Linked DNA regions of Homo sapiens. The protein of the gene in region 1 interacts with the protein of each later gene in a pairwise test. Each region holds a gene or a part of one and is shown in the gene's direction. Other genes may lie near its edges. The genes, in order: GIMAP1, TM4SF19 and CLEC10A.

Region 1 (3,750 bases):
AGCGTGAGGACGGACTAATACATTTTCTTCACTGCATTTATAAGGATACGGAAGAAAACAATGAACATGCAAAGACTGGAAAGAGAGGAAGGAAGCATTAATACAGGGTACAAAAGGAAGCCGGAGTTCTAGATATAATTCTGAGACTCAAGTGTAGTCAGGGTCTGAGCTTCACCTGGGTTTCCACAACTGATAGTAAGTATCAATGAATAATAATAGGCAACAAAGCCCAGAGACAGTGAGACATAATCAAGAGCTAATAGAAATGTAGAGGAAAATAAAGACAGAAACGGTTACTTTTCAATAGGAAGAAGATCCCAGAAAGCACCAGTAGGAAAGTGGAAATGTGGGACGGGAAGGGATAGTAGCCAATGCAAGTTGCATTAATGAGCACATTACCACTGTATACGGTGATGAGGATGTTCCCACTGCAGACAACTGGGTCTCAGTCCTGCTGGGGACTCAGCAATTTGTATGCAGTACATCACAGAGTTGTCTCACGTGGTGGACAACTTGATAAGTTGTGGTGTTTATCCATAAGTCCTAACTGACATTGATTGAAATCTGCTCCTAGGATATCAGCTCTGACAACTTCAGGCTGCTGCATGCATTACCTACATATACTTTTGTAGTCAGATAAACCCTCTGACAGAGAGTTATGAGTGGCTGAAGTAAGACATCATACACATGCATGGAAACAATAAATGGCCCGGAGCTGTTGAAGAGGCTCTGAAAGCGTCTTTATGAAAGGTACACGTCAAGTATCAAAGACTTATTCAAAGCTGATCTATGTGGCTTGGGCTAGGATGAGGCTAGTGAGAAGCCCTAGGCACCTCACTCTTAAGAAAACACTCACTCCCAGGGTCACCCACCTACAAGATCTGCACTTGGGTGACCTGAGAGTGAGTGCCTCCTTAAGCTGTGTGCTCTAGATGCCCCACCTGCCTCACAATAGCCCCAGCCCTGCCGGTCTACTGGGAGAATGACAGGCTCCCTGTTTCAGCAATGATGAATGGAAACAGTGGACATGTCAGATATCCAGGAGACTCTGTGCCCCCAAAAAGATGGGAAACAGTAAAAGCTGGGTCTCTTCCCTACCAGAAAAAAAGTGGTCTGGCATGAAAGAGGTTAAAAAGCAGATCCTATCCAGTAGGGTAAGACTCGGGTTATTGTCTTCCCCATATACTCCAGAAAGCCAACTCCAGAAAGTTTAAATGAGTTAGGTGAGGTCCTATAGCTGGTTAATGACCTAACCAGATATGCAGCCTGCTCCTCTGTAGCCTTCTTACCACCCAGTGATTCGCTTTTTTGCTGACCTCATGATGCTCTTGAGAGAAGATAGAATAACTAGAACTGGTGATACCAACATAGACGACTAGACTAAAGCCTCCTAATAAGGCTAAATTGAAGATAGTGCGAAGGTGTTCATCCTCAACATACCAGTTCACCCTCAAGTCCTTCAATAGCTGGGAAAGCCCTCCTCTCTCAGAGAATGATAAGACTTTGCCTTCAGGTTTTTCTGGCAGACTGGATCTGGGGCTGGCACTGGCCACATGAATGTCTAATTAATGGACAGATGATGAGAACAGCTATTACGTTATTTGTTCCGGGGCAGGAGACTCTCTGGGCCTATTTTATATGGGGAAATGTCCCTATAGGGCAAAGGCAACTGAAGATTAGCTCAGTAATCAATTTTAGAAGTACAGTCAGGCCTCAGAGACTACAACATCCCTCCCTTCTTAGAGCATGGCAAGATATTTGACATCATGAGGCCCTGCTGGAGACACATAACCTCAGTCACAGCAGAAAGTAGAGTCGGTAGGAGAAGTATTGCCAACCCACAGCTCAATGGGAAATGTTTCTGTCTCTTTAAACCATAACCATGGGGCCCACCCTGAGCTTCCTGATTTCTGAAGTCTGAGTGATTTCCTCCGTGTGCCGAGAGGAAACAGCCTTCTGCACTCACAGCCGAAGGGAAAGCAGCAGGTTGGGGCTTCTTGTGGCCAACTTCAGAGCCTGTCACCAGGAAAGGTGAGCCTGAGCCTGGGAGTGGCGGGGGCTGGGGGTGCTCTGAGAACCAGAAAGAACATGATTCCTAGAGTGTTTACTGCCTGAACACTTGCATTCTACAAGGCATCATGCAGGCGAGCAAGATCTGGAACAATCAAGGACATACTTCCAGGTTTTTAAGTAGGCAAAGTTCAGAGGAAATTTTAGGATCATCTTCTCCAGCTCTGGAGCACACACGTTCTTGGTGGGGAGTGAAATCTGTCTCCTCCCACATTCCCTTAACAAAGTAAGAAAAGAGTGTGCTGGAACCACCTCCAGGAATAAAATACAGTTTGAAAGGCATTAAACATTCCTCAAGCTCCCTATTGAGCAAAGGCAAAAGATATTTCTATGGCCCCATAAGCCATCTAACCTCGGAGTGAGTTACGACGTGACAAGACTGGGTACATTTGAACTCTCCTCCTCACTGTCCACAGAAGGGGCCCCTGAGGAGACATCTGAGATTAATATCTTGGTCTTCAACCCCTTTCCCTGCATGGCCCCTTAAACATCTGCTCCCTTAATTCAAGCTTCTCCTGCTCCAGCCACGGGGACACCTCAAATTCCCATCTGTACAATAAAGGGGGTTGCAAAAATGACTGATGTCCAAGTTCTGAGCTGTGGACATCAGAAACATTTAATTCATGAATCAGAATCTCAGGATGGATCCAAGAGATGTACATTTTTAAAGAACATTCAAGTAATTCTGAGAAGCAGCACATTTGAGCGGTGAAGAACTCAATAAACTTTGCGGTCTCTTAAAGTGTTAGGAATACAGGATTCTATAAGTGTACATTCCTCAATGATTAAGGGCCATTTGTCACCTCAGAGTTCAGCTGGGTCTTACTTTCCTTTAAAAAAAAAAACTATTTAAAATCATTTCAACCCCTCTTCTAAACTATGGAAAATTCCAAAGGCCTATCCAGAATTCTGCAGCACTGGAAAAAGAAATTCTCATTTTCTTGGTTGACAAGGACATTTTGCTTCATCTAAATTCTTTTCTCTGAATCTTGCAACTGTTTCTTCATTTCTGCTTTGATGTCATTTATGATCATCTGTTCATTCCTACATGCAAAATAATTAATCACATAAGGCCCATGGAGTGAATTTTATTGAAGGCTTTGGGGAGGGCCAGTAGAGTTCCTGCAGAAACAGAAACAGCTCTAGATTTAATATGAGGCAAATCTGTTCTCCAAGTCCTTCAATCAAAGACAAGTTACTCAGCCAGCCTCTCTCTCTGCCCCTCCTTCATGTGTGGTGCCAATGGGAGAGAACACAGGTATCCAAGTGACCAGGGTGCAAGACACAACAAGTTTGACATGGATGGTGAGGCACAGACAGATGGTCGGGGAGGATCAATAGTCCTAGGAGGGGAAGCCGAGTGGGTTGGAAAGGCCCTGAAATCTGCTGATTGTGAAGTAGCTGACCGAGTGGGGTATTGTCTGGGAATGAGGCTGGAGACATAGATGCAGGGAGAAGTGAATTTGTGTTCAGGAGCTTGTGTGATTAGGCAAACTGGATCACAGAGGGTTTAGCTGTATTACACAATGTTAGATTTCAGCATAATCACATTTGGAGGGGAAGCAACTTCAGGAGTTGAAGGGAAGTGTTCAAGTCTCTCCAGCACAGATATCGTATTTAGACATCTCTAAACAAACCAAATTATTTGATTTTAAGAAAACAGAGTTAGGGGCCCTCCAG
Region 2 (3,750 bases), on another chromosome or scaffold:
GCAAATTCAAACACAAGGAGATTACACTAAACACCCACCACAATGCCTAAAATTAAAAATGTTTGTGAGAATGTGTAGAAACTGGAACTGTCACACACTGCTGGTGGGTGTGTAAATTAGGACTACTTTGGGAATCTGTTTGGCAATATCTGCCAAAATTAAATATTCACCTGCCCTATGATAGCAATCCTACTCCTAAGAATATTCCCTGGAAAAATTAGTGCATAGTTCCTTCAAAAGACATGCAGAAGAATATTCATAGCAGCATTATTTATAACAGGCAAAAGTTGAAAATATAAATGTCCATTAAGAGTAGAAAAAGTTGTAATATCCAATGTAATAATACTCAGCAATAAAAGAAAAATAAATTACATGATGGATGAATCTTACATATAGAATATTGAGTGAAGAAAGCCACACACAAAAGCCATACTGGGCTGGGCGCGGTGGCGCACGCTTGTAATCCAGCACTTTGGGAGGCCGAGGCAGGAGGATCACTTGAGCCTAGGAGTTCGAGACCAGACTGGGCTACATGGTGAGACCCCATCTGTACACGAAATTAAAAAATCAGCTGGCGTGGTGGCGCTTGCCTGTGGTCCCAGCTACTCAGGAGGCTGAAGTGTGAGGATCACTTGAGCCTATGAAGGCAAAAGGCTGCAGTGAGTCATGATTGTGCCACTGCACTCCCGCCTGGATGACACAGCAAAACCGCCTTTTTTTTTTTTTTTTTTAAAGAAAACTGTTTGATTCCATTTATGTGAAATTCAAGAACAACTAAAACCTAATCAATTATTATAAGAGCCAAAATGAAAGTTAACACTGGGGACAAGGGATACGAATGACAGGCGACACAATGAAACCTCTGGGGATTTGGAATGTCCTGTATCTTGATTTCTGTGCTGGTTCACCAGGGTATACATGTAAAAATTCATCAGACTTTAACATTAAGATTTGTGCACTTTAGGCTGGGCGTGCTGGCTCACACCTGTAATCCCAGCACTTTGGGAGGCGGAGGCGGGTGGATCGCCTGAGGTCGGGAGTTTGAGACCAGCCTGACCAACATGGAGAAACCGTGTTTCTACTAAAAATACAAAATTAGCCAGGCGTGGTGGCACGTGCCTGTAATCCCAGCTACTTGGGAGGCTGAGGCAGGAGAATTGCTTGAAGCCAGGAGGCAGAGGTTGCAGTGAGCTGAGATTGTGCCACTGCACTCCAGCCTGGGAACAAGAGTGAAACTCCGTCTCAAAAAAAAAAAAAAGAAAAGAAAAGATTTGTGCACTTTACTGTATATAATATCTAGATGTTTAAAATGCAATGGGAGCATAGAGAAAGAAGTACCTAACTCGGAGTAAAGAAATCCTGGCAGACTTCACTGGGAATGTTTGAACTGAATCTTGAATAGGAGCTTGTCCATAGAGGGTCACGGATCTCCCACACAGAGAGCACCACAAAATCCTCAGCAATTTGGTGAGAGTATGGTACAAGATGATAGTGGCCTGGGGCTTGAACAAGAGGCTGAGTGCGGTGGCTCACACCTGTAATCTCAGCACTTTGGGAGGCTGAGGCGAACACCTGAGGTCAGCAGTTCGAGACCAGCCTGGCCAAAATGGCAAAACCCCGTCTCTATTAAAAATACAAACATTAGCCGGGCATGGTGGCAGGTGCCTGTAATCCCAGCTACTCAGGAGGCTGAGGTGGGAGGATTGCTTGAGTGTGGGAGGCGGAGGTTGCAGTGAGCCGAGATCATGCCACTGCACTCCAGCCTGGGTGACAGAGTGAGACCCTGTCTCAAAAAAAAAAAAAAAAAAAAGTTAGACGTCTAGTACAGGAACCATGCAACACATCGAGTCAGCCAAGGGCAAGGTAAGGAGAGTGATGAGGAAAAAGGGGTGGCTGCCCTGCTCGGTGCTGTTCTGTCAAAGAGCCGAAATTCTTCGCGGGGTGGCAGATGAGGACAGGAACAGCTGGGGTGTGGCAAGTGTTGCTGCCTGGGGAGAGCGGAGGGTGAGGTGTTTCTCACGGGTGCATCCAGTGACTCATCAGGACAGCGGAGCTCATGAGGCCATGTCTCCCGTTTCCTGCCTTAGAATCACATGAAAATGAGCAGAGGGTGGGTCATCAGGACAGGGCTCTCCGGGGAGCGGAAGCGCCTTCAATGCAGGCCTGTGGGCAGGGGCGTGGGGGCGCGCACACACACACGCCTGGGTGACCTCTACGTATATACAGAGCCTCCCTGGCCCTCCTGGAAAGAGTCCTGGAAAGACAACCTTCAGGTCCAGCCCTGGAGCTGGAGGAGTGGAGCCCCACTCTGAAGACGCAGCCTTTCTCCAGGTTCTGTCTCTCCCATTCTGATTCTTGACACCAGATGCAGGTAAGCAGAGATGAAAGGGTGAGGTGACGGCCAGGGAACAGCCTAGCCTCACAGATGAGAGTGCACGCTTCCACTCCAGTGAGCCTGGCTCTGCAGCTTGGCGTCTGTGTGACTTTGCGCCATTCACTTACCTTCTCCTGTTGCCTCAGTCTGTCAACTTCTGGCCTTTGCACCTAGAATACTCTTCCTGCCTAGTATCTCATCGTCCATCAAGTTTGGGCATGGGCAGCCCTTCCTCCGGGAAGCTTCGTTTTGCTTCTGCCAGATAGGATTAGGTTCCTCCATGTGCTTCCATGACACCTTAAGTTGGATGCCCCTGCCTGGTACTTACTGTTACCAGCTGTGAATCCAGCGAGTCTGCAGCAAACTCAATCCTTGCCTTCTCGGGGGAGAGATTCGGCTGAGGGGCAGAAGTGGGTTTAAGGCAGAGGGAGAGGCTGAAGCAAGTTTGAGAGCAGGAGTGAAGGTTTATTAAAAAGTTTTTGAGCAGCAATGAAAGGAAGTAAAGTACACTTGGAAAAGGGCCAAGTGCGTGACTTGAGACACCCAAATGTGCTGTTAGACCCTTGACTTGGCGCCTGCCTGCCGCACAGGCACTTGGGAGGGGCCGCATGCGCAGTGTGTTTACTGAAGTCGTGCGCATGCTCACTTGAGGCGTTTTTCCCTTACCCGCGGAGCAGCACTAGAGGAAGGTCACACACACCAGCTAAACTCCACCATTTTGCTTCTTAGTGTAGATGCTTGAGCCCACTCGCCCAATTCCTGAGCTCTTACCAGGAAGCTGCTGATCACCAAGTTCAGGTATTTTCTATCTATTGGGAGACTGTCTTTCCCAACGCTGGCTGTGACCAATATTATTTTAGAAAGACAGTGTAACAACCGCCTGGCCATCACCTGATAGTCACCTGACATTACTGGGGTAGAGGCCCTCTCCCGCCCTGCTCATGTCTGCTCTATTTCTTACCACACTTGATTAGAATTACTTTTTGGCCAGCCTGACCCACATGGCGAAAACCCATCACTACTAAAAATACAAAATTAGCCGGGCGTGGTGCATGCCTGTAATTCCAGCTACTTGGGAGGCTGAGGCAGGAGAATAACTTGAACCCGAGAGGCGGAGGTTGCAGTGAGCCAAGAGCATGCCGCTGCACTCCAGCCTGGGCAACAAGAGCGAGACTGTGTCTCAAAAAAAAAAAAAAAAAAAAAAAAAAAGAATTGCTTTTTGCGTCAGCAGTGTCCCCACTAGACTTTAAGCTCCTCAAGGAAAGGGATTACATCTTTTTCATCGTTATATCCCTAGCCCCCCAAGTGTCTGTCAGGTAGTGATCACTTAATAAATATCCGACTGAAGGAAGAATGAAAGAAAAGCCTTGCTGGGT
Region 3 (3,750 bases), on another chromosome or scaffold:
ACCTACGTAACAAACCTGCACATTCTGCACATGTATCCCAGAACTAAAAAAAAAAAAAGAAGCTTCAAACCCACTGAACCAGACTGAAAAAAAAAAGTTAGTGAATGGAGAAATATCATGTTCTTTTCATGGAAGATTCAACAATGTCAAAATGTTGATTATCTCCAAATTAATATGTGAATACACTGCAAGACTGTGGTAGACACACAGAGAGCTACCCAGGTCCCCCTTCTAGGAAGGATGTGGTGACCCACTGTGGGGAGTGTAACCTGCAGACAGCTGCTTCCTGAGGTCACACCCATGTCAGGGCTGACTGCCAGTGACCGAAGGAGCTGGTGCTCTACAGGACCCTGTGGCAGTCCAATGCTGGACAGCTCCCGGGGGTGGCATTGTTTGAACCCAGAGCTCCCTGTTGGTTTGGTTGAAGCTCTCCAAAGTGCTGGGCTTCTCCCTCTGCCCAGCACCATTTCATCCACTTTCCTTTTCGAAGTGCTAATCCCTAATAAATAGCTTGTACCCCAAATTCAGCCTCAACCTTGGCTTCCAAAAACCGAACCTGCGACATATACTAATCAAAATACCGAATACCAAATAAAAACAAAACTGGCAACGACCTGGCCGGGTGCGGTGGCTCGCGCCTGTAATCCCTGCACTTTGGGAGGCTGAGGCGGGCAGATCATGTGAGGTCAGGAGGTCAAGACCAGCCTGGCCAATATGGTGAAACCCCTCTCTACTAAAAATACAAGAATTAGCTGGGTGTGGTGGCGGGACCTGTAATCTCGGCTACTCGGGAGGCTGAGGCAGGAGAATCGCTTAAACCCAGGAGATGCAGTAGCCGAGATTGTGTCACTGCACTCCAGCCTGGGCAACAGAGTGAGACTCTGTCTCAAAAAAATAAATAAATAAATAAAATAAAAAAGAAAAGAAAAAGAAACAACTTAAATTTCTGATTTATTTCTGTCAATAGAGAAATGCTAAATAAATAAATTACGGTGCCTATGATGAAATGAGGTGCAGGTAGATCAAGTACATTTTATAAACTGATGTGGAGAAATGTTCCTGATAGCTTGTTAACTCCAAAAAAAAAAAAAAAAAGCACATAGCAGAACACAACCCCATGTACATACAAAATATAACCTAAAATGTATTTCTTCTCCTTCTCCACCTTGTAAGATACTCAGTTTCCTTCCTACTGAAAGGGATGTGCGCGTGGATTCAGGGCAGCTCCCTTAGGGGTTGAGCAGGGATCATGGGATGAAATGGAATCCTGTTCATGAAGACAGCGCCTGTGCTGAGAGCCAGAGCAGGGTGCCAAACTGTCTCCTTACAAGCTGTGAGTGATCTTGGGCTCTGAGCCTTTAGTCCGTCATCCAAAATGCCTCCCCAGGTGCTTGGGGGGAATGGTTGTGGAAGGTAAATGTCTGGCATAATCCTATCACAGATTACTCAATAAAATTTGCTCTTTTCCTTGGCTTCTCCCGTCCTATTAGGGCCAAGAAGTTCTATTCTCTGGCACCCCCTTCCCTCCTTCCGAGTGGAGTGAGGCGAGCGAGGCCACAGCTGAGCAGCCGAATGACTGGGACCCAGAGGATGCTGATGCCAGGGACTCAGGCCAGGATTGAGCAAGAGAACAGACTGGGCTTCTCTAGGATCAGAGGTGCGATGATGGAGACCCAACAATTCTGGGAAATGTAGAGGCAGGAAGTGAAAGGAAGTGTAGGGTAGAGGAGCAACAGCAGATTGTACCTCTGATCCAGCCCTGCTCCCAGATGGTAAAAATGAGGAAGCTCCGAGAAGAGGAAAGGAAGTAGGCATGGCCTGGAGGAGGAGAACAGAGCTGGCCTCAAACCCAACTCTCCCCACCCACACATGGTCTCTGTGTGTTCTAATCCCTGTTCATTCTCATTTACTGTCTAAAGTTGAGGAGATGGGATGTCCCAGATGATAGGGCTCCTGGGATTTCAGACCCAAGACCAGCAGGACTCCAGTCACCTCTACCCCAGCTCTCCAGGACACAGCGCTCCCAACTCTGAGTGACGTCCCACCTCTGGTCCTTGCAGCACAACCAACGTGGGAATCACACCCTCCAGACCTCCCACAGGTAATGGTGCTGCCGGTGCCGGTGAGACCCAGGGGACAGGGGATGTCAGAGGAAGCAGGGAGAGGGGGACTTTGGGTCTTGGGTGGGACTAAATGAAAATAAATATAAGGCGGCAGTGTGGGGTTTAATTACTACGTGGAGATTTGAGACTCTGTTCCCTTCACTGGATTCTAGATTGGGTTACGGCAGCCACAATCCCCTGTCATAAACTAAGACTCCGGGAGCTGAGGCAGGAGAATCTTGTGAACCCAGGAGGCAGAGGTTGCAGTGAGCCGAGACGGCCTCGTTGCACAACAGCCTGGGCGACAAGAACGAAATTCCATCTCAAAAAATAAATAAATAAAAATAAAAATAAACTAAGACTCAGACTCAGCCTCATTGGTGGCCCATTTCCAGCCTTATCTTCATCTCAGCCCAGCCATGCCCTAATCCCAATACTAACCCCAGCTTCTACATTTTCTTTTTTTTTGAGACTGAGTCTCACTGTGTCGTCCAGGCTGGAGTGCAACGGCACAACCTCGGCTCACTGCCACCTCTGCCTCCTGGGTTCAAGTGATTCTCCTGCCTCAGCCTCCCAAGTAGCTGGGATTACAGGCGCACACCACCACACCCAGCTAATTTTTGTATTTTTAGTAGAGATGGGGTTTCACCATGTTGGCCAGGCCGGTCTCAAACTCCTGACCTAAAGTGATCTGTCTGCTTCGGTCTCCCAAAGTGCTGGGATTTATAGGCGTGAGCCACCGCACCTGTCGCCCCCCACCCAGCTCCTACTTCAACCCCAACCCCAGAATCAACTTGAATTTTAACACCAGCCCAAAGCCAAAATTGAACCTCGACTCTATTCTGTTTCCAAATTCACCACCAAAGTTAACCCCAATTCCATCCATGGCTCCAACGTGCATACTGACCCCAATCCTAGCATGAGATACAACCTCCAGTCCTGCCTGATTAACTGGCCCACTGGGTAGTCCTAGCAATGCGTTTAGCTCCAACGTTACCCTCCAGTTTCACTCCCAAACTCAACTCGACCCCAATTCTAACTCGACTGCAAACCCAGGCTCATTTCCGTCTTAACCCTGGGCTCATTCTCAACCTGAGCCTCATCTCCCAACTCAACGTCAGCCCTGCCCTTGGCTCCAACTTAGTCCCAACCTCCTATTCCCCAGCTCCACCCCAGACTGGGCGCCGGCCCTGCCTCCATTTCAGCTGTGACAACCTCAGAGCCGTGTTGGCCCAAGCATGACAAGGACGTATGAAAACTTCCAGTACTTGGAGAATAAGGTGAAAGTCCAGGGGTTTAAAAATGGTAAGAGGAAAGGGGAAACTCTCCTAAAATGCCCTCTTTATATGTTTAGAAGGATTTCTCCTATCATTTCTGTACCTCCACCACGCGCACTGGTGGGTCCTAACTCTGAGGAGGTCAGGCCCCAGCCTCTGACGGGCCTAGTGTGAAGAGGATGCAAGGTCTCTAGAAAGACTGGGACAGGGAGGATCACAGTGGACCCAGCTTCTGATGCTCTGTGGGGTGGGGATGAGAGCTGCGCATTGGTGGAGGGAAAGATAAGTAGTTGGGTTTGGAAGGAAACTCATTTGTGAACCTGATTGTCCAGCAGGTAGGTGAGCATAAGCCCATGAAGGGCTGGCTGCCC

What was found.
Region 2: the proteins of GIMAP1 (region 1) and TM4SF19 interact in binary tests that used the Homo sapiens proteins (3 or more experiments, as listed by UniProt).
Region 3: the proteins of GIMAP1 (region 1) and CLEC10A interact in binary tests that used the Homo sapiens proteins (3 or more experiments, as listed by UniProt).

What each region holds. Positions count from the first base shown.
Region 1 is NC_000007.14:150,714,660-150,718,409, forward strand, and holds the start of GIMAP1 (GTPase IMAP family member 1), read left to right. Parts: upstream 1-1,953; 5' UTR 1,954-2,031; intron 2,032-3,750. UniProt on the Homo sapiens protein: May regulate lymphocyte survival. Required for normal levels of mature T-lymphocytes and mature B-cells.
Region 2 is NC_000003.12:196,336,885-196,340,634, reverse strand, and holds the start of TM4SF19 (transmembrane 4 L6 family member 19), read left to right. Parts: upstream 1-2,246; 5' UTR 2,247-2,371; intron 2,372-3,750. UniProt on the Homo sapiens protein: Negatively regulates vacuolar (H+)-ATPase (V-ATPase) activity by interacting with members of V-ATPase V0 complex and hence inhibiting V1-V0 complex assembly. Required for multinucleation during osteoclast differentiation.
Region 3 is NC_000017.11:7,078,403-7,082,152, reverse strand, and holds the start of CLEC10A (C-type lectin domain family 10 member A), read left to right. Parts: upstream 1-1,901; 5' UTR 1,902-2,101; intron 2,102-3,267; 5' UTR 3,268-3,340; coding exon 3,341-3,407; intron 3,408-3,750. UniProt on the Homo sapiens protein: C-type lectin receptor involved in recognition of N-acetylgalactosamine (GalNAc)-terminated glycans by myeloid antigen presenting cells (APCs).